7 linked regions of the Homo sapiens genome follow. The protein of the gene in region 5 purifies or fractionates together with the protein of the main gene of each other region. This does not show direct contact. Each region holds a gene or a part of one and is shown on either strand. Other genes may lie near its edges.

Region 1 (2,311 bases), on a different chromosome or scaffold from region 5:
CTCCTACGTGGCCGCTGCACTTCGCCCCAGTCCTAGGATTGGCTGGGCTCCCTCCACAGGCTCCGCCTCCTACGTGGCCGCTGCACTTCGCCCCAGTCCTAGGATTGGCTGGGCTCCCTCCGCAGAACCCCCCAACCCCACGTGGCCCCTGTGCCTTCCCTCCAGTCCTAGGATTGGCCAGGCTCCCTCCACAGGCCCCACCTCCTACATGGCCTGTGTGCCTTCATTCCAGTCCTAGGATTGGCTGGGCTCCCTCCTCAGGCCCCGCTTCCCACGTGGCCTCTGCACCTCGCTCCCGTCCTAGAATTGGCTGGGCTCCCTCCACAGGCCCCGCCTTCCACGTGGCCTCTGCACCTCGCTCCCGTCCTAGAATTGGCTGGGCTCCCTCCACAGGCCCCGCCTCCCACGTGGCCACTGCACTTTGCTCCCATCCTAGGATTGGCTGGTCTCCCTCAGGCCCCGCCTCCCACGCGGCCTCTGCACCTCGCTCCAGTCCTAGGATTGGCTGGGCTCCCTCCGCAGGCCCTCCCCCCACCCACCCATGTGGCCCCTGTGCCTTCTCTCCAGTCCTAGGATTGGCTGGGCTCTCTCCGCAGGCCCCGCCTCCCACGTTGCCTATCTGCCTTACTCCAGCCGTCCTTCTCTGGACTGTTGTCTTTATCTGGTTCTGGTCGGGCAGAGATTTGTGTCACAGACTTTGACACCCCACCCATCTTAGAAGCTCGGAGCAGCGCTGTGTGCTCTGCCAGACGAGCTGCCCCTGGTGAAAGCTGGGCCTGGCCCCTCCAGTCGGAAGCCCCTCACTCTCCATTTTGCTGCTTATCAAGACCTTCGTGTGTGCGCCGTTGCTAGTTCCGGAATTGCATTCTGCACGAGGAGGGGTCGCCTATAGATTCTTAGTCCATCAGACCCCGAAGCAGAGGCCAAAGTCCACGCCAGGTGAGCCACTCTGAACTCTGTTTCTTTGGGGTAAACCAGGAGGCAGCTTCCCGCGCCTTTGGCTTTGGGGGCTGTGGCTGGTCCTGTCCTGCGGCCGTGCTCGCCTGGTTTACTGTCTTGTCACTGCCCGCGCCGTGAAGGTTGACGGAGAGCTGCTCTCGTCCACGCCTTTACCCGCTTGTTGGTTTGGGTTTTAACCTCTTGACCTCTGAGCGTCCCTGGCTCTCTGGTTAATGTTCATGCTGGGGCAGGTTGTGGACCAGGTGTCTCTGCCGGCAGGCCCCGCCCTCTCGGAACTCGGTCCTGGAAAGCCCCAGGTGCCTCCTTCCCCGTCTGCCTGGCTGTCGTCTGTGGTGTTGCCTCTTCCCGTCGCTGGGTAACAAACCACGCCACCCACCCGCAGCTCGCCATGGCGGCCACCCACTCGGCCCAGTGTGCGCAGCAGGGGTTGGGCGTGCCGGGCCTCGGGCTGCACAGGCAGGGTGCTGCTGAGCCCAGGTCCCTGTGGTTGCGTGGGCAGCGTCTAGGTTCCTTGCTAGCTGCCGGCCGGGACCACCTACCTTACTCCCACGCAGCTCCTCCATCCAGGCCCCAGCAGCTCCAAGCCCTGGGTCTCCAGAGAGAATTGCTTTTAAAGGGGTTGCGTGGTTAGGTCAGGCCCACCCACCTCGTCCCCCTCTCTATGGTCAATTCAGAATCCATCATCACAGGCCAGTGCCAGGGGCCAGGGCCCAGGGCCATGTGGCCACCCGGAATCCTGGGCTCCTCTCCAAGGCACCAGGGTGAGGAGGACGCCTCAGTCTCTTCGGCCTCGTGTTCCACAGTCACATCAGCACCCGGAAGGGCTGCAGCAGAAGTCGTTTTCTGTGGGCAGCCTCCGCCTGACGGTCCTCCCTGGTGCCATTCGCCACTGAGTCTTCCCAGACCCTCTGGGGACTGCTCCGCCTCCTCGTCACCAAGACAGTGTGTCCCGGATGCCAGCTCCATCCCTCCCGACCCCCTCAGCCCCTGCCACTGCCTCACGGGGCTCTTGCAGCCCCGGCCTCCTTTCTCCTATTGGTGCCAGACAGCCCCATGGGTCCTCGGGTGGGATGGCGCTGTCCACATTCCACCGCGCTGGAAGCCCCATGGGGACGCCGTCAAGGGAACGGCCCGCACCACCCCCACCCCACCACAGACGGAGGCCCAGCGAGGACGGCAGGGTGCGGGGTGGGTGGCCACACAGCGAGGAGAAGGCTGGCGGAGGCTCCGCACCGCCGCCACAGGTCACTGGAGAAGGCCCCTCCTGCATGGCGGGCCTGCGCCCAACTGCAGGCTCCGGGACTGCCATGCATGGCCGTACCCGGCGAGGCCGGCGTGTCGGGGCCTTGCT
Region 2 (3,500 bases), on a different chromosome or scaffold from region 5:
CTGATGTCTTAGAAAAATCCTACAGTTTTATGATTTTAATTAGAGTCTCTTCTTTCTACAGAAATAGGAAGGTTGTTGATTACTCACAGTTTCAGGAATCTGATGATGCAGGTAAGTTTTGTGGTTTCAACAAATTTTAAGTTGGACTGACCAGTGGAGGTTACCAGCTTATATAGTTTTATTATGCTTTTGGAATAAGTTTTACTTTTTTATTTTTAGATCATTTACCAAAACCATGTCATGATCTGTGTCAACCAAAGCAAAAGTTGAACTTACATGGATTTTAACTTTTCCTTGGTAAATCATTGATAATAAACATTAAAAAGCTTTTTTCTTACCTGGTTTTGGAGTCCAAAGTTTAAATGTCCAGTAATTCTGATACAGTGTTCATTGCTTAAAATATCTCCTGCTGTCAGCCAGTCGCCATGGCTCATGCCTGTAATCCCAGCACTTTGGGAGGCCAAGGTGGGCGGACCACTTGAGGTCAAGAGTTCCAGACCATCCTGGCCAACATGGTGAAACCCCATCTCTGCTAAAAATACAAAAATTAGCCGGGAGTGTTGGCATGCACCTGTAATCCCAGCTACTCTGGAGGCTGAGGCAAGAGAATCGCTTGAACTCGGGAGGCGGAGGTTGCAGTGAGCCGAGATGGCGCCACTGCACTCCAGCCTGGGCAACAGAAAGAGACCCTGTCTCAAAAAAAAAAATCCACTACAGCCAGGCGCAGTGGCTCACGCCTATGAATCCCAGCACTTTGCAGGGGAAAAAAAATCTCCTGCTGTTACTACAATAAAACTTGTGCCTTGTATTATGTTTTTACATAATAAAGCAACTAAGATGAGAGTCTGTTTTGTGAAACAACTTATATTTATGAACTAATTCATCAAGGAATGAGTGTTGTATAGCTAAGTCTTAGCCATAAGAGGTTTTTTCAGAGTTGTCTCCTTAATCTCATTACTTTCCAGGTATGTTTACTATTCTTTTTTCTTTCTTTTTATTCTAACTTTTCTTTATAAAGATAATATGTGCCCTTTGGGAAGACTTAGAAAATACTGAAAGATATGAAGAAGAGAAAAAAAATAATATGTAGCACTAATATTTATTAAATGCTTGCTACATGTCAGGAATTGTTTCAAATGTTTGTATTTAATATTTACTTAGAATAATCTGTTAATGTGTGATATACTATTATTATTTCTATTTTGAGTATCTTGTTAATAAAAGGTATTTGAAAAATTCCTATCAATGGTTATATAATATCCCATAATGGAATTTATAATGTTTCTGACCACTTAATAATTGCTGACGCTCCAGACTACTTCCAGCATCTCGCCATCGTGTGTGTGTGTGTGTGCATGTGTGTGTGTGCAAATGGTGCAGTAAACAGTTTTGGAAATAATTTCCTTTTAAGGTAGAGTCATTTTCCTTAGTTTTATAGGGCTTTTGAAATTGGAGATATTTTCTTCAAGTGCAAGATTATGTTGTATTTAATGCTTTAGTTTAAAAGTAATTTGCTTAGTAATAGTAATTGTGTTTACTTCCTAAAATGTTTGTAATATAACCATATTACAATAATTTTCAAATAAGTGTGAAGATGTTGAAATCAAAAGGGGAGGGTATAAAATGATGAGAGAGGTTTAGCTATAGAAAGATGAAATATATATCATAAGGACTAGAGGGTAATATGCAAAAACGAAGTGAAGGTGATAGGACTGCGTTGGGAAATAATTTAGTTTTTTAAAGATGAAAGAAACTATTTGGGAAATCCTGCTCCTCTCACCATTTAAACAGCATGAGAGATAATTATGTCAGTAAATATAGTGGTGATTTTAACATGTAAAAATCATAGTTAATTAAGTTTGAAAAACACTGTTTAGATGAAGATTATGGAAGAGATTCGGGCCCTCCCACTAAGAAAATTCGATCATCTCCCCGAGAAGCTAAAAATAAGAGGCGATCTGGAAAGAATTCACAGGAAGATAGGTAAGAGGCATTGTTTTTCTGTTCCTGCTTACACTGTTACCACTCTGAGATGAGAGCAGTCTCTGATCTCTAAATTGTTGGAATCTCATATACTTTTGAAAAGTACTTACTGTCCACTTAATATTTTGCATATTTCATATTATCTCAGGCTGTGCTCGAGTATACAATTTGTTATCTAAGGTTAATACTGACACTTTCATTGTAGTGATAACAAAAAATAAGTGATATATCTCATTCAGTCACAAATCACTGGCACAATTAATTACAACTAAAGCTTGTAGAATCTTAAGTTGTATAGCCTGCTGCCTTTTGCTGTCTCATAATCAATTCTCCTTTGTTTAAATAATTTAACCATTTTGGAGAGTTTCTTTTCCCTTAGTTTTACAAATGAGTTGTGATTTTAACTATAATTTTGCCTCATAAGACCAGGATATTAGGAGTACATGGTGGCTCATGCTTGTAATCCCAGGACTTTGGGAGGCCTAGGTAGGAGGATCGCTTGAGCCCGGGAGTTTGAGACCAGCCTGGGCAATATAAGGAGACCACATCTCTACATAAAAATTTAAAAATTGGCCGGGAATGGTGGCACTTGCCTGTAGTCCCAGCTACTCAGGAGTCCGAGGCAGGAGGATCCTTTGAGCCCAGGAGTTCAAGGCTGCAGTGAGCTATGATTGCACCACTGCACTCCAGCCTAGGTGACAGAGCCAGGACTGTCTTGGGAAAAAAAAACAACAACAAGACGAGGATATTGTAATTTCTGCCTTGTTAGTAAAGTTATACACACTCTCACACTTGATGTAACATGAACTTGTTACACTTGGTGTAACAAGACCTTCTTGGTGATAATGGTGATTATAGTGATGGTGATGGCTACTGTTTATTATGTGACAATCTCTATTATGTGTTTTACGTACACTATCATTTAATTCTTACATCATCTCTATTTGGGTAAATATTAACTTCTTAGAGGGGTTCTGTGATTTAACCAAAGTTATCCAGCAAATGGACAAACAGGTTATGAAACCATGTCTGTTGGACTCCAAAGTACATTGTTTAACCATTGGAGCTCTATACCACTTCCAAATAATACTATTACAAATGAGCAGTTCAAATAAATGAAATATTTCTCACTGCTTCTTCTAAGAATCTTGGAGCACCAAAATCATTATTAAATTCATGTATTTACCTAGTAGTTTTATTTATGTTGACAACCTCTAATACTTTTTTTGCTGGAGCATTTCAGAAGTGTGCTTTTAAGGAAAAATAATACAGAATTATACTGTTGGGAAACAAGTCTTCTAGAGCTTCTTGGTATATGTCTAACATAGTTGTTGTTGTTTGTTTTTAATAGAGATGGGCTCTCGCCATGTTGCCCAGGCTAGTTTCAAACTCCTGGGCTCAAGCGATCCTCCCATCTCAGCGTCCCAAAGTGCAGGGATTACAGTGTGAGCCACCATGCCTGGCCTAAAACAGTTTTTTGTTTGTTTGTTTGTTTGTTTTTTGAGGCAGTCTCACTC
Region 3 (3,500 bases), on a different chromosome or scaffold from region 5:
AATTTTTCATCTATTTTACCCATTCAATTTTTATCCAAATCATATCATTTCATGTTTTTACTTGATTATTAGAAGCTTTGCGGTTCTATATTTATGATTCCTCAACTGAATTAGGCAGTCTTGGATCAGATAAATTACATGTGATACTTTGCACTACTCATGGCACCTAACAGAATCCTGAGATACTCATAAAATATGTACTTAGTATTGAATTTCAGAAAAACAATCCTATGCAAATAGAAAATTCAAAAAATACTCAATGGTGTTTTAAGGGGTTAAGAAGGAAGTGGCTTATGAATTCTCATAGTCCAATCTATTATGTTAATCTAGAAAACTAGGTTAAGATATTTAGAAAACTTAGGATGTAGTATTCATATTTGAATAAGACATAGATAATCGCAATGTCATACTTATATATATAATTATATATATATATAATTGTATGTGTGTGGTATGTGTTCATTAACTTGATTATGTGTGCTACTGATTCATTTTCTCCCACATTCAATACCATTGTGAGATATCATACTGAGAAGGTCTAAAAGCAAATAATTTTTTCATTCTTTTCCACTTGAGTCAGTTTTTCACAGCATGTACTGTGATGGCAATAGCATTCCTATTGAGAAATTATGATTTAAAAGCTGCTTCTTTCTCTTTAAAACAATAGTCAAGTTGTATCATTTTTGTTAAGACTTTTGTTGTCAAGTTAGTGCCAGAGTCACAAGTACATTTACGTAGTACTTTGATTTGCATATGGTTTGTTTTGCTACGACTTTTGTCAACTCTAGTTGTTTTTTAAAGTAAATAATGTCTATTATTCTTAAAGTAGTTTTATTCTGTTTTCCTTTTTACCTACCCTTATCTAAATCACCTTCTTGTAAGTTTGTCAATGTCAGTGTCACTTTTGAGTAGAGGGTCACTATAGTATAAAAGATACCTTCTCCCTCTACTGGCCATTCTTGGAAAATGATCTAGCCATTTATAAACACTTGGTTAACATCATTGTCAGTTGTATATGAGGATGGATTCTGGGTTTCCAGGACTGCCAATCACTGGAAATGATCATGAAATGTTGAGAAGAAATTCAGAGTTAGACAATGGTAAAGTAGGTGTAACCTACCAAAAATATGAAAAAGAGAGACTTATAATTCTAAAACCAATAAATTAGGGTTTTTAAACGGGGATTCAATTTAAAATATATGTTTACATTGACTTTCTTTCTTTTGGAAAATATTTCTGGGAAATACATATACTCAGTGGAAAATTAGAAATAAGAAAGAAAGAAGGAAATACATTTAGACTCATTTCCTGCTGCCAGAGATTGTTTCTTAAATTCTTTCATGCTTATAACTGTTCAAAATAGTGTTTTTCATATGAACATTGAAAAATACTTATGAACCAAGTAAATTGAGAGCAGAGGCAGAAATGTGCCTCTTCTATGGTTCCTAAGAACATGGGTCTTTAATTTTGTAAATCAAAATAGTTAATAATAATTGGTCATTGAGAAAAGAATTCACCTAAGTAGATGGTACGTATTCTGATACTCAGTTGCATTTTATCTGGGAAGAATAAAAATGAGTTCCATTTTAAAATTACATGTTTAATATAGGAATCTTGCAACACAATATAGAATATTAACTGCCACAACCAAATAACTGTGCAATCAGGCAGAGTTTAAAAATGTGAAGATATGTTTTTAAATTGTATACAAATTTACCTAACATGATATTTTTCTGCATGCATATCTTTTTTCTTTTTCTTTTTTTAAGAGAGAAACTATATAATATAGCTTATTACATTTTAGGCAGTGTACTTCATCTCATTCTTATAGGTAATAGTGGGTAATGATAAAACTATAGAGAAATAACTTGACATAATTTCACAGTTTGACCCCCAAGGCTCACATTTAACTTGTGCTGTGCAAACTATTGCCATATGTGAAAAGGCCACTAGGGTTTTGAAGATAAGCACAGTGATGGTGCAGGAAGCATGATTCTTCAGGGCATTTGAATAGAGGAGCAGAGGAATGACTTAATTCGGTACTGGGCACATGGTGCAGACTCCAAACCCTGTTTCCTTCCACATGCCTCCTGCCAGTGCTTTGCCATCATGTTGTTGACTGGAAGCTGTTGCTCTGTTAACCTAGACACTGGCAAATGAGTTTTGTTTTCAGGAGGTCTGAATTAGAATCAAGAGGAAAAGTAGTGCAAGGGAGAGGAAGGTTATTTTCTCTACTTTGATTTTGACTCTGACTGTAGAATAAGGATGCCTATTTCCAACAGAGAAAAATCAAAACCATTATGACTGATTTCATGTCATTGAAATCACCCATGTTATAACTAAAAATAAAGTCCTCTAACAGCCTTCAGCAAAGATACCTAGTTAACAAGACAATCAACTGAGATTCTGTTTTTACTATAAATCTTAATGTTTTCTGTTAAGGCCTTCATTAAAACTGCATTTGCTGGGATTCTTTTCCTTTTAATGTTAGGTATGAAAATATAAATATGCTAGGGGCTATAGAAAAGACAGTCAAAATAGAGGAAAAATACAGTTTTTGAATTTGTCAATTTCTATTTTTTGTCATGAACAATGACTGAATGACATCTTCTAAGAAGTAAAAACTTTATTTACCTTCTATGGAGTGTTTATTCTGGTCAATATACTAATGAGCATGCTATCTAAATGATACACATATAATATAAATATTTTCACCTTTTTATGTCTGAGCAAACTGAGGCTCAAAGGGGTTAATTAACATGTTGTGGCCACACTAGTTAAGCCAGGGATTCCAAACTTCAGTCTGTATGAATCCAAAGCACGTACTGTTTTCTCTGTATGCTACTACCTACCTTTATATAGTCAGTGAGTTGAAAATTATCTGTAGAATTCAAACCAAACTATTTCAGGTTGGAGAAAGTAGGCATTAAAAACTTGAGGTTTTCTACTTCTTTCATATATTTAACTTGATGATTTTTTTCTCTCAGTAGTTCAAAATGAAATAATTGTCTATCCAGAGAACACAGAAGACAATATGAAAAATGGAGTGAAGAAAACAGAAATCAATGTAGAAGGTGTTGCCAAAAATAACAACATTGATATGGAAGTTGAGAGACCATCAAACTCTGAGGCACATGAAACTGATACTGCTATAAGTTACAAGGAAAACCATCTAGCAGCTTCATCAGTACCAGATCAAAAACTGAATCAACCCAGTGCAGAAAAGACAAAAGATGCAGCAATTCAGACAACCCCTTCTTGTAACAGTTTTGATGGGAAACACCAAGATCATAATTTATCTGACTCCAAAGTTGAAGAATGTGTGCAAACTTCAAATAACAACATATCAACTCAACACTCATGCTTAAGTTCACAAGATTCTGTAAATACCTCAAGGGAATTCAGGAGTCAAGGCACCCTAATTATACATTCAGAAGATCCGCTTACCGTAAAAGATCCAATTTGTGCACATGGTAATGATGATCTTTTGCCTCCTGTAG
Region 4 (3,358 bases), on a different chromosome or scaffold from region 5:
AGGAGTAGAATTACTAGGTCATATGGTAATGATGTTTAAGCTTTTGGGGAACTGCCAGACTGTTTTCCAAAGCAGCTGTACCATTTTACATGACAATGATTTTAATTGACATCTTAATTGAAGGATTTAGAAAACAATGTTAAGATAAAAAAAGAAGGTGGCCGCCTGGAGCTGAGGTGGGCTCCCAGTGTGGGTCTGGGGAGGTGGAGCAGTGGGAGACCGTGCCAGTCCTCTGATTGGCTGGGAGAGAAGACGGCAAGTCCCAGGTCATCGCAGGGCGGGGAGCCAGGGAGTCACCAGCTCCAGGCTCTGCGTGGTGGTGCCCAGCGGAGGGGCCGGCTGAGATTCAGCCTGTACTCCCCGCCCCAACTGCATACCCAGGAAGCTGTGGGCAGGCGAAGGAGGTGCCTGGCATTGGCCTTTACACAGCCTCACAGTCATTGAGCAGTGAGGAATAACGTACGCAGTTCACAGAGGGGAAAACCAGGCTTCGGAGAGAAGGGCCTGCCCCACTTAGGAAGTGCGTGGGGCACCTGGTTTCTCCAAATCAGAGAGCTGCTGGTGTCAGGCAGCACTAGGCCAAGACCCGAGGCAGAATCAGGGCTGAGCTGCCTTCGCGTGTGCGTGTGTGTGTTTCCTATCTGACCGTTGCCTCTGTCCCACCAGCCCCAGGCCATTTACTGCAAGGATGTTCTGGACATTGAACAGTTCTCTACGGTCAAGGGCGTGGAGCTGGAGCCTACCGACCAGGACTTCTACCAGAAGTTTGCCACAGGCAGTGTGCCCATCCCCTGGCAGAACGAGGTGGGGGCCTGCCCTGCTGGTGGGGTGGGCTCCAGGAGGCTGCCCTGGGGACAGCTGTCACAGCCGCCTGCTCCTCAGCAGATGGTGGAGACCGAGTGCTTCCAAGAGCTGAATGTCTTTGGGCTGGATGGCTCAGTTCCCCCAGACCTGGACTGGAAGGGCCAGCCACCTGCACCTCCTAAAAAGGGACTGCTGCAGAGACTCTTCAGTCGCCAAGTAAGCCCCAGCAGCGGCCTACCTGGGCCCCTAACCTGGCTCCAGGGGACGGTGGGTGGGAGGCAGAGCCGGTGCCCGCATGCGCTGGGAGTGGGCGTCCTCCAGTCCTGTTGTGGTGCCCAGGGTCTCTGGCCTCATTCCCGCCTGTCCCCCACCCCTGGCTGGGCTCATGGCCTCTTTTCTCTTTCCAGAGGTGAGCAGTGTGGGCTCCCCGTGGGTTGGCCTTGCTGCCTGGCCTCGGGGAGCCACGGGCAGCCCTTCCATGGCAAAGGCAAGATGTGGGAGAAAGAAGTCTGGTGCCCGCCCCACTCCCCCTGCCCACTGCTTTGATCCCCTGCACCCTGGCCCCTTCGAGCTGCCAGCTTTGCTTCGCTTGTCTCCCCGTGCCCTGTCTCTGCCAGCCCCAGGGGAGAGGGCTGGGCAGAGGCCTTGCCCTGGCAGACCGTGGGATCTACCCAGCCCCCTTACTTCAGTCTGTTGCCGGCAGCCTCTGCAATGACGCCCACCCACGTGTGGCCTGAGCTGCTGCTCCAGGCTCCTTGTGGAGAGGCCCCTCCCCAGAGTGCACCCCTCAGGCAGCTCCTGGCCTGCCCTGGCAGGGTCGGCCCCATGTGACGTCCCTCGTGGTTAATGGCACCTGCTCTGCCTCTCTCCCTCCCTCCGTGTCTTCCCCGTCCCTCCAGGATTGCTGTGGAAACTGCAGCGACAGCGAGGAAGAGCTCCCCACCCGCCTCTAGCCCCCAGCCCGAGGCCCCCACCAGCAGTTGGCGGTAGCAGCTACTCCGAGCGCCGTTTACAGTTTTGCACAGTGATCTTCCCCATTGTCCACTCAAGTCGTGGCCTGGGGAACACAGACGGAGCTGTCCCCAGTGTCCTCCGTCCCTCAGCCCCTGGCCTGGCTGAGTTTGGCAGGGCCTGGGCCATCCCTGGGACAAAGGTGCGTCCCTTCAGCTCTTCTCCGTGGAGCTCGGGGCTTTCTGTATTTATGTATTTGTACGAATGTATATAGCGACCAGAGCATTCTTAATTCCCGCCGCAGACCTGGCGCCCCCGCCTTGGCTCCTGGGGGCAGCCAGCCCTGGCTGGGAGAGCGGGAGCTGGCAGAGGAGCCACTGCCAAACTCAAGGCTCCTCTGGCCCAGCTTGGATGGCTGAGGGTGGTCACACCCCTGAGCCTTCAGCACTGTGCTGGCCACCCCGGCCTCTGAGTAAGACTCGTGCCTCCCCCTGCTGCCCTGGGCTCAGGCTGCTACCCTCTGGGGCCCAAAGCTGTCCCTTCTCAGTGCTTGTCAGCGCTGGGTCTGGGGCCTCTGTATGCCCTAGGCCTGTGCCAAAGTGGCCAGAGATTGGGCTGCCTGTGATACCCATCAGCCCACTGCCCCGGCCGGCCCAGATAGGTCTGCCTCTGCCTTCCAGCTCCCACAGCCTGGTCCCTGATACTGGGCTCTGTCCTGCAGACACCTCTTTCAGAAACGCCCAAGCCCAGCCCCTAGGAGGGGGTGGGGCATCCCTGGTCAACCCTCAAACATTCCGGACTCCCCTCATAACAATAGACACATGTGCCCAGCAATAATCCGCCCCTTCCTGTGTGCGCCTGTGGGGTGCGTGCGCGCGCGTGTGTACCTGTGTGGGTGAAGGGGATAGGGCGAGGCTGTGCCTGTGCCCCAGGTCCCAGCCCTGGCCCTTCCCAGACTGTGATGGCCATCCTGGTCCCAGTGTTAGGGTAGCATGGGATTACAGGGCCCTGTTTTTTCCATATTTAAAGCCAATTTTTATTACTCGTTTTGTCCAACGTAAGCTGCCACATGTCTCTGTGTGAATAGTCCGAGCACAAACCTGGCTAGCCGCCCCTGCCTGCCTCTTTCTTGCTTCCGGTGCTCCAGGGGTCTTCCTGCTCCCCTGGCCCAGCTGGAAGCGGGAAGGGATTGGAGGTGGGCCTGGAGGGAAGCAGGGTGTGCCCTTCCGAGGCCCAGGAGCCCCCAGGGCTGACTCTGAACTAGCCTCTCCAGACAGCCAGGCTTTGGTAGCCTTTGGGCTCACCCAGTGGGTTTCCCAACTTCCTAAATGGGATGGGGCCTAAGGAAAGAAGCCTTGGGTACCCACTGGGATGTGGGTCTGTTTCTGACTGCTGGTAAGGCGGGCCCCGTTGGTGTCCTCCCCTCCAAGGCTAAGGTGGCCTGGCTGCCTAAATGTGGACGTAAGAGTAGGGTGGGAGCTGTGTAAGGAATGTCTGCCCCAGGCCTGCGTTACCTGGACGCCAGCCATGTACGGGCCCCGGGCTGAGGCACGTGCATCATATCCACCCCTCTGTTTTGCCCTTGACACATTATGGGCAAAGA
Region 5 (3,500 bases):
TATGATTTTAAAGGCAGGTCTCTTTATACAAAGAAACTGCTGGCATTCTTGACTAGTGAAGAATTATGGCAGAAAGGCCCATTCTTCTGAGTCTCAAACATGGTCCAAGAAAGCATATTCTGATTGTAGCAACTGACCAGTCAATCCAGAGTTCCACTTACAAAACCCCTGCCCTGTTGGCTTTTTGTTTCCATTTCCTTCCCTGAGAAAAGGGCAATGTGTGGTCCAAGCTGGAGAGCTCAAAGGCTTAAGTCTTTCCCCTAAATATATGATATCCCCTCCTCCTGCTCCATTGAATTGGCACTTGATGAGCAGAAGTCAAGTGTAAGAGGCTGATCTGTGTCAGTCATTCACAAGAGACCACTGCGCTTTGTTGTGGATTTTGTATGGGGGAGGGGTGGAGAACCAGTTTTTTTCAACAGGTACTGATCCTAGGCCGTTGCCATTATTATGAATCAAATTTTGCTTTCTTTGACAATGGTAACGTATCTTCCTTATCTTCATCCTCATCATCATCTTCATCATCATCAGGATAATCTACCAGACCCACGAGGCCTCCCTGTTAAGAAATAAGGATTATTTAAAGAACAGAAAATAAAACATATAAAAACACTGGTGTTTTCTGGCTGGAGAAAGAAAATAGATCCTACCAACATAGTAACGGTGGTTATTTCTGGGTGGTGGGACTGTGTTAAACTTCAATTCATTATGTTTACATATTTTCTAAATTTCCTGTAATAAACATGCATACTTTTTTACAATAAGGGAAAACTTTGAGTTAATTAGAATTAAAGCAAAAATTTTTTTTTTCCAAGTCGGAGTCTCGCTATGTCACCCAGGCTGGAGTGCAGTGGTGCGATCTCGGCTCACTGCAACCTCCACCTCCCAGGTTCAAGCAATTCTCCCTGCCTCAGCCTGCCGAGTAGCTGTGATTACAGGCGCCCGCCACCACGCCTGGGTAATTTTTGTATTTTTACTAGAGACAGGGTTTTGTCATGTTGGCCAGCCTGGTCTTGAACTCCTGACCTCAGGCGATCCACCTACCTTGGACTCCCAAAGTGCTGGGATTACAGGCATGAGCCACTGCACCCAAACTAAAGCAAAAAAATTTAAGTAGTTTATAATCCTAGCAAATTACCCAGGAGTTAGAAAATGAATGAAAAATGTTTGTTTCAAGACTTAATAGCATCTTAAAATTTTTTTAAACATAAAGTCTAAAATAGTATAAAAATGAGGCTGAGCATGGTGGCCTGTGCCTGTAATTCCAGCACTTTGGGAGGCTGAGGCGGAGGGATCACATGAGGACAGGAGTTTGAGACCAGCCTGGCCTGTTAATTAACATAGTGAAACCCTGTCTCTAATAAAATTACAAAAATTAGCCAGGTGTGGTGGTGCACATCTGTAATCCCAGCTACTTGGGAGGCTGAGGCACAAGAATCGCTTTAATCTGGAAGGTGGAGATTGCAGTGAGCTAAGATCACGCCACTGCACTCCAGCCTGGGTGACAGACTGAGACTCTGTCAAAAAAAAAAAAAAGTACCAAAATGAAAACTGCAGCAGATAAAGAGACCACCAGAAATGAGGGTAGACAGGCTTTTTCTATTTATTAGAGGTTAGGAAAGCAGTTCTACCCTGACTCTTCCTCATCATTTCATCTGGGTTTCCTTTTAGCCCTGCTCCTTCACCAGAAACCACTGCCGCTTGCTTTATTTATTTTTTGAGATGGAGTCTCACTCTGTCGCCCAGGCTGGAGTGCAGTGGCGCCATCTCAGCTCCCTGCAAGCTCCACCTCCCGGGATCACACCATTCGCCTGCCTCAGCCTCCTGAGTAGTTGAGACTACAGGCGCCCGCCACCACACGCGGCTAATGTTTTTGTATTTTTAGTAGAGACGGGGTTTCACCGTATTAGCCAGGATGGTCTCGGATCTCCTGACCTCGTGACCCACCCCCCTGGACCTCCCAAAGCACTGGGATTACGGGCGTAAGCCACCGCGCCTGGCTGCTGCTTGCTTTATTTCGATGCTAAGGGAAAAATTCACACTGCTCTGCTCTCAAGCCTGCCTCTTCATTTCAGCGTGTCTCAGATTCACTTCTTAGCCGTCAGGAGTCTCCAGCTCACGCCAGAAAAAAAAAAGACTGAATGGGCATTACGTGTCTGATTTAGATCAGTGATTCCCAAATGCCAGTCTTTTAACTGCTAGTCTGCTAGCCCAATAATCAATATATTATGTCTCAAAAGAAAAGGGTGGTTGGCATAAGGAGCCCCCAAAACTGGTTTTATTCTGAGATTGCATGTTTTCTACATTTTTTCTTAAGATTTTGTTCCTTTTTTTTTTTTTTTTTTTGAGATGGAGTCTCGCTGTTGCAGTAGCGATCTCAGCTCACTGCAAGCTCCGCCTCCCAGGTTCATGCCATTCTCCTGCCTCAGCCTCCAGAGTAGCTGGGACTACAGGCGCCCGCCACCACGCCTGGCTAATTTTTGTATTTTTAGTAGAAACGGGGTTTCACCACGTTAGCCAGGACGGTCTCGATCTCCTGACCTCGTGTCCTGCCCGCCTCAGCCTCCCAAAGTGCTGGGATTACAGGCGTGAGCCACCGTGCCCAGCCCTTGTTCATTTCTTATATGAAATGTTAGTGATAGTAGATGTTTAATTTTCTTAACAAACCTTAACTGGCAAAGTAAAGTTAGAAGTACCCAGATATTTAGATTATCATTTCCCCACAAAGGCTTTATCTGGGTATTAGTTAGGAACATTTATTCAAGAATAACTGAAAACCTTGAACATTTCTGTAAATGTTTTGACATACAAATTTGAAGTTTCAGTTCTAAAATCCAAAATACCCAAGTGAGAATTCACACTATATGCAGACTTGCATTGGTCATAAAAAAAACTTTCAGAAATTTCTCAACCTTTATATAAGTTCAAGCGGTGGGGGGGACTCATCCTCTAGTTCAGGGATGTTAAATCAGTTCTAGGTGGCAGTAACCAAAGGGAATCTTAGTCAAAATTATTGTTGAGAAAGCTTCAATTGGGAAAAAAGGGGGCAAAATGGGAGTCAAGAATGTACCTTTGTAGTAATAGCTGCCGTCTGAGATGTATTTTTAGGTACGGATCCAGGAGAGCCTGGAGATCCTGGGGATCCAGGTGATCCCGGAGAACCAGGCAGATTTGTTGTAGATGACTGGCTGGTGAGGTTAGTCTTCGTTCCACTGGACAGGGAAAGCTTGAAACTTGGGCTCTGCCGTCCAGAAAGGTTTGTTTTCAGAAGCACTTCCTTTTCCTCACTTTCTTTTACTAAAAATGAGAATACTGTCAATAGTCGTCCCCCATACTTCTTTTTTAAATTTCCCCAAATGAGGTAACACTAAAACACATTTAACTAGCTTACTACGCTGGGTAGAAACATTGAAGTTCAATTTATAAAAGAAGCTTACCAAAATACTAACCACAATTCCATTCATTGGATCTTACCCCAGAGAAGAATTGAAACCTTCAGA
Region 6 (3,500 bases), on a different chromosome or scaffold from region 5:
ATTCTACCTTCAGTAAATTAAAGCCTTTATCTTACCCGGTGTACATGAAGTTCCTTAAAGATCTAATGCTTCCATGTACATTTTCTATGGTTTTACAGGATTATTATTGCCAATTTAGGTCAGATACATCACAGGAGGAATAAATTATTATTTTGATAGAGGTTATTAGCAGCATGTATACAAATTAGTTTAGATAAATCATGCATTGTCCTACAAACTAGTTATTTCTGGCTTAATGTAATATAGCTCCTGAATTTTTTCCAGCAGCATAATAAAATGGCTAATCAGGTGAATGGTAATGCGGTACAGTTAAAAGAAGAGGAAGAACCAATGGATACTTCCAGTGTAACTCACACAGAACACTACAAGACACTGATAGAGGCAGGCCTCCCACAGAAGGTGGCAGAAAGACTTGATGAAATATTTCAGACAGGTATAATATGCATTTCTTGTTTCTGACTGGTTATGAAAGTGAGGGCAAACCACTTTGAATTTTATAGTTTTTTAAGGTTAAATAATACTTATTGTTTCTGATCTGTAGAGCTGAATGTTTGTTACTTTCCCTTCATTGAAGGCATATTGGGTTTGACTTTGATACTCTTATTTCATTATTTTGAAGCCTTCTTAGTGTTGAATATGCAGTCTTAGTTGTTTCAGAACAGCACATCGATTTGTCTTAGATTTACCACCCATAAAAATGTATGTTTCTGCATACCAAATTTTACATTTTTTTCTTAATCAAAATCAGTCATCATTTTGCTTTTGCTTTTCTACTTTTACCTTCTTAAAGTGATTGTTAAATCAGCTTAGGTCTGATTAGGTGGCATAACAAGAGGATAGCTGTATCGTCTGAAACCATAATAAATGTCAGACTCCTTGAGAGTTTGTGGCTTGTCTAGTTTCTAATAGAAATCCACATCTCTCCGTAATTTGGAAGTGTTTGGTTGTAACAGCTGCTTCTTTTTTTTTTTTTTAATCCAGAAGTGCCATGGTTAAGTGCTTAAGCAAATTTGAACATCTTAATATAGTTGGTTGTAAGTGGTTTGAAGTTTTAAAGAGGGAGAGAAATATTTACCCTTAGGGAGCGTTGTTCATAAATGAATGTGTCCTCCTCCTTTGGGGACATAGATGGAAACTTTCTTCCTCTGTGTTGTGTGTGCCTATTCAGATTCTGAGAGAGAATTGAATTGTCTCACTCACAAATGTGTCTTAAGTACAGTAGTAGCAAATAGCTGTTTTTTTTTTTTTGTCCTTAAAAAATTTTTAAATCTGGGAAGCTTAGCATAATTTTAGACATTAAAATGACTTATAAAAATGACTCCTGGGTCATGGTCGCATTTGAAAATCAGTCCTCAGGAACTTTCTGTGACATTCTGCCATAGAGAATTGGCAGTGATCTGCTTAGAGATGCTCTCTTGTAGAGTGTTTTGTTATTGATAAGAGGCTGATGGTTTGGGCGTAGACTTGGTTTGACAAAATGGATTGATGGGTGTCCTGAGTTGTGGCTTCGGGTGGTGGTATGGAATATTCAAGTGAGGCAGCTCCAGTTATTTACACATGCTCATTTCGAGCTTTTGAAACAAATCATGGCAACTTTTTTAAAAAGTAACTTTGGAAGTGGCATTACATTTATTTAAAATTTACTATATGGAATAAAGTTCTTTTTAGCTTTATCAAAATGGAGTCACTTTTCATGTTCATATGAACTTGGGGGTTTTAATCTACGAAATACTTGCATTTTACGTTGGATCAATTCTGAAATATATTCCATATGTAAATATGACACAAACTTAACAGACTTAAGAAATTATATTTTAAACTTAGTAGATGTTCTGTGTGCAGTTGAATATACTTACATATATGAAATGCAGTGTATATATTTTCTGTCAAGTTTACTTGTAAGACCATAAAGTCTTTATTGCCATTTGAAAATGATTGTCGTTCTTGACAGTCAATGTGAATGCCACAGCATCTTTTAAATCTCAGCTTGTCACTTCAGAAGAACAAAGAATGCCTTAAAGTATGACTTTCAGAATTGATTAATCAAGCTGCACTTGCATTTGTAGAAGTTTAAAATTATGCCTTTCCACATTCTGACTGCAGCAAAGTGGATGCTCAGATAAACAAATGCATTTCAGTTTATCTTTGGTGTTCAGGAGGGAAAGCCTTTTGACACTTTTTGGAGAGTGGAAAGAATTACTTAGTAAAATTTGTTTTCAGATTTTCCTCCACCTCTTAGGTGGTTAGCATCAACTGTAACCGTCTGTAATTTGAAGGTTTATCCTTGGAAAACGCAATGTATTCTTATCACTCTAATATAAACCAAAATTTGTTGTATTAATGCATAATCTGTAATACAGTATGTACATCAGATTTAACTTTCAAGACTTATACCTTTGGGGGAGTGGGAAATGGATGTTAGGATTTGGCGGGGGAGGTTTGTGGATATGGAGATTGAAATTCATGTTTTTGGTTGTTGACATTTTATCTTTATTTTCATATTTGTCCTGGACCTTTCTATGTAGTATTTGGATAGCTGCGTATATGCATATAGTTAAATGAAAATACAGTTTGTTAGTGATCATATTGAATGTAACAATTCTTGATTAAACGTCAGTAGAGCTTAGATTACCCCTTTTGTTGCAATAACGTTACCCCTTTCAATTTAATTTTTAGGATTGGTAGCTTATGTCGATCTTGATGAAAGAGCAATTGATGCTCTCAGGGAATTTAATGAAGAAGGAGCTCTGTCTGTACTACAGCAGTTCAAGGAAAGTGACTTATCACATGTTCAGGTAAGGTCGTTACTCAGAAATGTCTTTGAACAATTAGTAATCTGAAATTATTTTACTATTACTTTTTTTCCTATGGAGAAGTGGTATTTTTTGTTTGTGACTACCTCTTCTTTTAAAAAATTAGTTTAAAGGAAAAAAACTGCTTGTGGCAGAGTTTCAGAAGCCCAAGTATAAAGCAAAAGTTTTCTCCCACCCCCTTGTGCAGTAAGTTATTTTAAAAACTTAAAATTAAAGCCAAGTTTTGATGGTTGTTACTATAGGTTTTTACATGTTACTCAGCTTTTTAACATTTGGGGGTTATTTGATCCTGTTTTATTATCTTGGAGGAAAATGTAGGTGGGAGGAATAGTTTCCGACATCTGGCAAAGACAGTCTAGATACAGTCACATATCAACAAGTGGAAGACTGTGTTTTCCCAGGGTAGAAGGTAAGCTCCCTGAGGTCTATACTGCCTTACTGCTGTCTGCTCCAATCTCTGGCACATAGTAACCACTCGGCAAATACTTGTTGAATGAATCAGTAAATCTTTTGTTAAAATCCTGGTTTTCTGAAATTTAAATTTAATTATGTATCTGACCCTTCAGATATTTTTGGTGATTCTTTTTATTGAATTACTTGTCTGTTCTAGAACAAAAGTGCATTTTTATGTGGAGTTATGAAGACCTACAGGCAGAGAGAGAAACAGGGGAGCAAGGTGCAAGAGTC
Region 7 (4,115 bases), on a different chromosome or scaffold from region 5:
GGCAAAGCTAAAGCTTGATCACAGGCATGTAGCTGGTTCTAGGAAGTTCCTACTAGCAAAAAGTTTTCATGGTAGTACCAAAATGGGATTCTAAGAGAGGTTTTAGCAAAAACATCAGACTGTGACTAAACAAAACAGGGTTAAAAGCATAGATTCAAACTACTTTCATCCAAGTAACCCAGCAGAGTTTCCTTGAGAGAATCATGAGTCTGGAAGGAGAATTTTGATGTCAACTCTGAACTACTGCTATCCATATTTGCAGATAAGGTACATGGTACATTTTGATAAGAACCTTAGGCCAATAATGACTCAAAGCAAATTGATGTGGTTTGTTCTTACCACATCAATCAAATGCTACATGTAAAAGCCCAGGAAATGTACTGGAAAACATTCATGAAGAAGTATCTCAAGGGAAATTGGAATTCCAAATTCTTAAAAGTATATGTGTATGACATTTTGACTTTTAAATCTAATTAGTCCTCACCAATACTTATGTAGTGCATATAATTTCTATTTTACACATGTGAAAACAGGTTGAAAAGGTTGACTTATTTCCATTTGAGAAAAACTCTTTGTTCTCCACAGTGTACATGGAGGCTTTAAAAAGCACCTGTAGGCCCAGTGCAGTGGCTCATGCCTGTAATCCAACATTTTGGGAGGCTGAGGTGGGAGGATTGCTTGAGACCAGGAGTTTTAGACTAGCCTGGGCAACATAGTGAGAGAGACCCTGTACAGTATATTGTATGTGTGTGTGTGTGTGCATATATATATATATTTACACATATATATGCACACACATATATATGCACACACACATATATTTACATATATATGCACACACATATATTTACATATATGTGTAAATATATATATGCACACACACTGTAAATATACACACATACACACTATACATATATACTATTTATATAGAAACGGAGAATAAAAAATAATCTAAAAAAAAACACTACTTGTGGGATATAATTCTGCCTGGCACATAATAGATGATCAATAAATGTCCATTGTCTGATAAGTAACAGTTTCTTTCTTGATTCTTATACAGGGTAGCTAGCTCCAAAGAATGTCTGATTCCAACATCTTTGCTTTTTCCAATACCACATGCCAAGAGAGAAAAAGACATACCTAATTTTTTAATTCTCACCATAAATCAATGAGACATAAACATTTTGGCTCTCACTGTCAACAAAACTCCTGTGTGTGATTTTTTTTTTTTTTTTTGGAAAGCAATCTAATGTTAAATCATGCTTCCTGGTTCCAAAACACTAGAAGTGCCAGCTTGACTGGATATTACACCTAATTGGCAGGACAAACATTCAATGCACCAAACAAATGGAATGTTCTTGTCCCTCATCCAAAGTAATAAAGTGCAGAGAAGCTCGCTTTTGTGCGCGCTGTCTCTCTCTCCCTCCCTCTCTCACTTTCTCGCTTTCTTTCCTCCACCCCTCCACCGCTCTCTCCAAGGGTCTTGGTCTCAGATCTCAGTTGCTTCTGCCCCTTGATGTTTGGGATTTTCTCCTTGCCTCACATTGCAGCTGCCTCTCCTTTGCGTCGGCGAATGTACGTCCAACAATCGCCCTCTAAAAGTTTTGAACTTTACTTAGGGGTTAAAAAAGAACTCTAGATCAAAGCTCTTGCGAGCTGCGTCCTAGTGCATTCAGGAATCCACCTCCTAGACAGAATTCCTCCAGCAACAATTCCAGTTCCATCCCACTTGTGAGCGCCAGCAGAGCATAGTGCTTGACATCGGGGCGAGAGAGGTGCATGCGCCGCGCACGCTCGGGCGCGCTCATACATACCACAAGAGGGTGAGTCCCCTGCCTCTCCCCGAGCCTAACCTGAAGGTCTGCGAGGAGGTCGCACCCGGTCCGCACCCCTTCCCCGCCAAACCCCGGACAACGCTTCATCCGCACGCCCAGAAGGGCAAAGCAAACACACTCCCTTCCAACACACTCCCTTCCGGGTCCTGCCCAGGCACAACCGCTCCTATTTACCGTCTTGTACCACCAGCTGGCGAATGCCATGGCAACAACCGGCTGGCTCCGATCCGCACGGCGGGGGAGCCGGCGAGGGCGCGGGGTGTTGCGTTGGAGGCGCCGGGCTCACACTCCGCTTGGCCGGGACCGGGCTGGCACTGAGCTCCGCACATCCCAAGGCGGCTGCCAGGTGGGCAGAACCCTGGGGGTGGGGCCCGGCGCAGGCCCCGCCCCTCCTCGCCCGCCCAATTTGGCTCGAGGCTGGTTAGGGAAGAGGCTCTGCGTCTCCAGGCAGCCACGCCCTGCGGCCCGGCCTTAGCGCGGAAGACTACATCCCGCTGTCCAGTGAAACCACCCCACTCACTCGGGGGTCCTGAGTGAACCTCATTCCCCGTTCATCCTCATCCTCATTCACCCACGTCTTACCAGCCAACTTTTCTTGACGCGTCCCCCCCTCCACTCTACCCGGCCAACGCCACGCCCAGCGCACTGGACCCGGCCGGGGAACCGAAGCCACCTGCAGCCACCTGCCTGGCAGCGGCCAAGCCCCTAGCCCTCTCCCTGCCCCGCGGGGGCGCCGGGGACTGCAGACCCGCCAGCCTGGCAACGCCCAGGGAGGGCGGCCACAGCTCCGGGACCCGGTACCCCATCGCCCAGCCCCGCGACGCCGACAGGAGCGCCACTCACCTCATGGGTGCGGCGGGCGGCGGCTGCTCGCCGGGGCCGCGGGGAGGCGGCGGGCTTCTGGCCGGGCTGGGACATGGCGAGGCCGCTGCGGCCGCTGCCTCCCGGAATGCGCCGCGGAGAGTGGCGGGGAGGCCTGGCGGGGAGTCCTGCCAGGGAGAGAGGGAGGGAGGGAGGGAGCGGAGGGCCCGGGAGCGGGCGATGAAACAGCTTTTCCGACCCCACCCCAGGTCTGCGCCGGGGTTCCCCTAGCCCCGATGGGCCCTCCCCTTCCTGCCCGCGGAGGGACCCGGGCTCCTGCCCTGTAACTTAACACCCTCCGCCCCGGTCCTCACCCGGTGACCCGCCCCGGCCCCAGCACTGCTCTGGTCCCGGTTGGTCAGAAAGAAGGGGTTGGAGGTTGCAGCGTTCCTCCTTCGATGCCCAGATCTAGCTTGCAGTTGTGCAACGAGAGAGCGGGACCCGGGCGTGGCCAGTCTACGCTTCGACCCTCCTCCCAACAATCCGGAGAAGTAGATACTCTTTCTACATTCTGCTCCGCTTTAGCTGCGAGAGTTTACCAACTCAAATCTGGCCCAAGCCTGGACAGTCTAGATAAGGAAGCGGATCACAAAAACAAATTGGTCTGTGTGTGTGTGCGTGCGTGCACGCGCCTGTGTATGTTTTATATGATTTTACTTTGTTTTTTGGCAGTTTCGAATTTTAATAAACTTTTATGGGGAGGAGAACATAGGTTCCAATGCAAAACGGAGAACAGTCCCAAATTTAAACCCTTATAGTCTTTCTAGAGTCTGGCGAGTTTTGTTTCTGAAGCTAGATTGCTTTCTTCTTGGGCTCATCTTAAACAGCGCTTCCTGGTTTGGGGCTGGAAGTGAAATTTAACAAGCCCTACGTGCTTATGTGAGAAACTGTCAGCCTGCAGTTGCTGCTGGTTCACAATCAGGCCTGACAGAAAACCTGTTTGTTACCCTGCAGTAGCATCATCATTCTGGGACTTGGGGTCACCGCTTTCTGCAGCGTTGGGGTTTAGACAGTTGAAGAGAGAGAAGGCAGAGCCTTTTTTTTTTTTTTTTTTTTTTTTCTGGAGAGGCAGTTTCGCTCTGTCTGGAGTGCAGTGGCGCGATCTCTGCTCGCTGCAATCTCCGCCTCCCAGGTTCAAGCGATTCTCCTGCCTCAGTCTCCTAAGTACTTGGGACTACAGGCGCGTTGTCACACCCAGCTTTTTTTTTTTTTTTTTTTTTTTAATGGTAGAGACGGGGTTTCACCACGTTGGTCAGACTGGTCTCGAACAACACCTGACCTCAAGTGATCTGCCCAGTGCTGCCTCCCAAAGTGCTAGGATTACAGGCGTGAGCCACTACAGCCGGCCAGAAGGCAGATTTTAAGGAGAGATTTGTCATGCTATATGGAGCCTGGCAGAACAGAATTCTGGTTTCCTTT

The links.
Region 1: the proteins of PPP4R3A (region 5) and EHMT1 fractionate together in Homo sapiens (co-fractionation; one large-scale study listed by BioGRID). This does not show direct contact.
Region 2: the proteins of PPP4R3A (region 5) and NUCKS1 fractionate together in Homo sapiens (co-fractionation; one large-scale study listed by BioGRID). This does not show direct contact.
Region 3: the proteins of PPP4R3A (region 5) and COBLL1 purify together in Homo sapiens (affinity purification with mass spectrometry; one large-scale study listed by BioGRID and IntAct). This does not show direct contact.
Region 4: the proteins of PPP4R3A (region 5) and GRK6 purify together in Homo sapiens (affinity purification with mass spectrometry; one large-scale study listed by BioGRID and IntAct). This does not show direct contact.
Region 6: the proteins of PPP4R3A (region 5) and HNRNPR fractionate together in Homo sapiens (co-fractionation; one large-scale study listed by BioGRID). This does not show direct contact.
Region 7: the proteins of PPP4R3A (region 5) and CAST fractionate together in Homo sapiens (co-fractionation; one large-scale study listed by BioGRID). This does not show direct contact.

What each region holds. Positions count from the first base shown.
Region 1 is NC_000009.12:137,832,005-137,834,315, forward strand, and holds part of EHMT1 (histone-lysine N-methyltransferase EHMT1), read left to right. Parts: intron 1-2,311. UniProt on the Homo sapiens protein: Histone methyltransferase that specifically mono- and dimethylates 'Lys-9' of histone H3 (H3K9me1 and H3K9me2, respectively) in euchromatin.
Region 2 is NC_000001.11:205,726,183-205,729,682, reverse strand, and holds part of NUCKS1 (nuclear ubiquitous casein and cyclin-dependent kinase substrate 1), read left to right. Parts: intron 1-61; coding exon 62-111; intron 112-1,877; coding exon 1,878-1,983; intron 1,984-3,500.
Region 3 is NC_000002.12:164,695,324-164,698,823, reverse strand, and holds part of COBLL1 (cordon-bleu protein-like 1), read left to right. Parts: intron 1-2,987; coding exon 2,988-3,500.
Region 4 is NC_000005.10:177,440,034-177,443,391, forward strand, and holds the end of GRK6 (G protein-coupled receptor kinase 6), read left to right. Parts: intron 1-666; coding exon 667-804; intron 805-885; coding exon 886-1,020; intron 1,021-1,211; coding exon of another isoform or gene 1,212-1,217; exon of another isoform or gene 1,218-1,320; intron 1,321-1,701; coding exon of another isoform or gene 1,702-1,703; coding exon 1,704-1,757; coding exon of another isoform or gene 1,758-1,794; 3' UTR 1,795-2,858; downstream 2,859-3,358.
Region 5 is NC_000014.9:91,458,311-91,461,810, forward strand, and holds part of PPP4R3A (serine/threonine-protein phosphatase 4 regulatory subunit 3A), read right to left. Parts: intron 3,298-3,500; coding exon 3,071-3,297; intron 560-3,070; coding exon 449-559; 3' UTR 1-448. UniProt on the Homo sapiens protein: Regulatory subunit of serine/threonine-protein phosphatase 4. May regulate the activity of PPP4C at centrosomal microtubule organizing centers.
Region 6 is NC_000001.11:23,337,785-23,341,284, reverse strand, and holds part of HNRNPR (heterogeneous nuclear ribonucleoprotein R), read left to right. Parts: intron 1-264; coding exon of another isoform or gene 265-276; coding exon 277-433; intron 434-2,676; coding exon 2,677-2,795; intron 2,796-3,423; coding exon 3,424-3,500. UniProt on the Homo sapiens protein: Component of ribonucleosomes, which are complexes of at least 20 other different heterogeneous nuclear ribonucleoproteins (hnRNP). hnRNP play an important role in processing of precursor mRNA in the nucleus.
Region 7 is NC_000005.10:96,661,061-96,665,175, reverse strand, and holds the start of CAST (calpastatin), read right to left. Parts: upstream 2,801-4,115; 5' UTR 2,754-2,800; coding exon 2,679-2,753; intron 2,152-2,678; exon of another isoform or gene 2,040-2,151; coding exon of another isoform or gene 2,010-2,039; intron 1-2,009.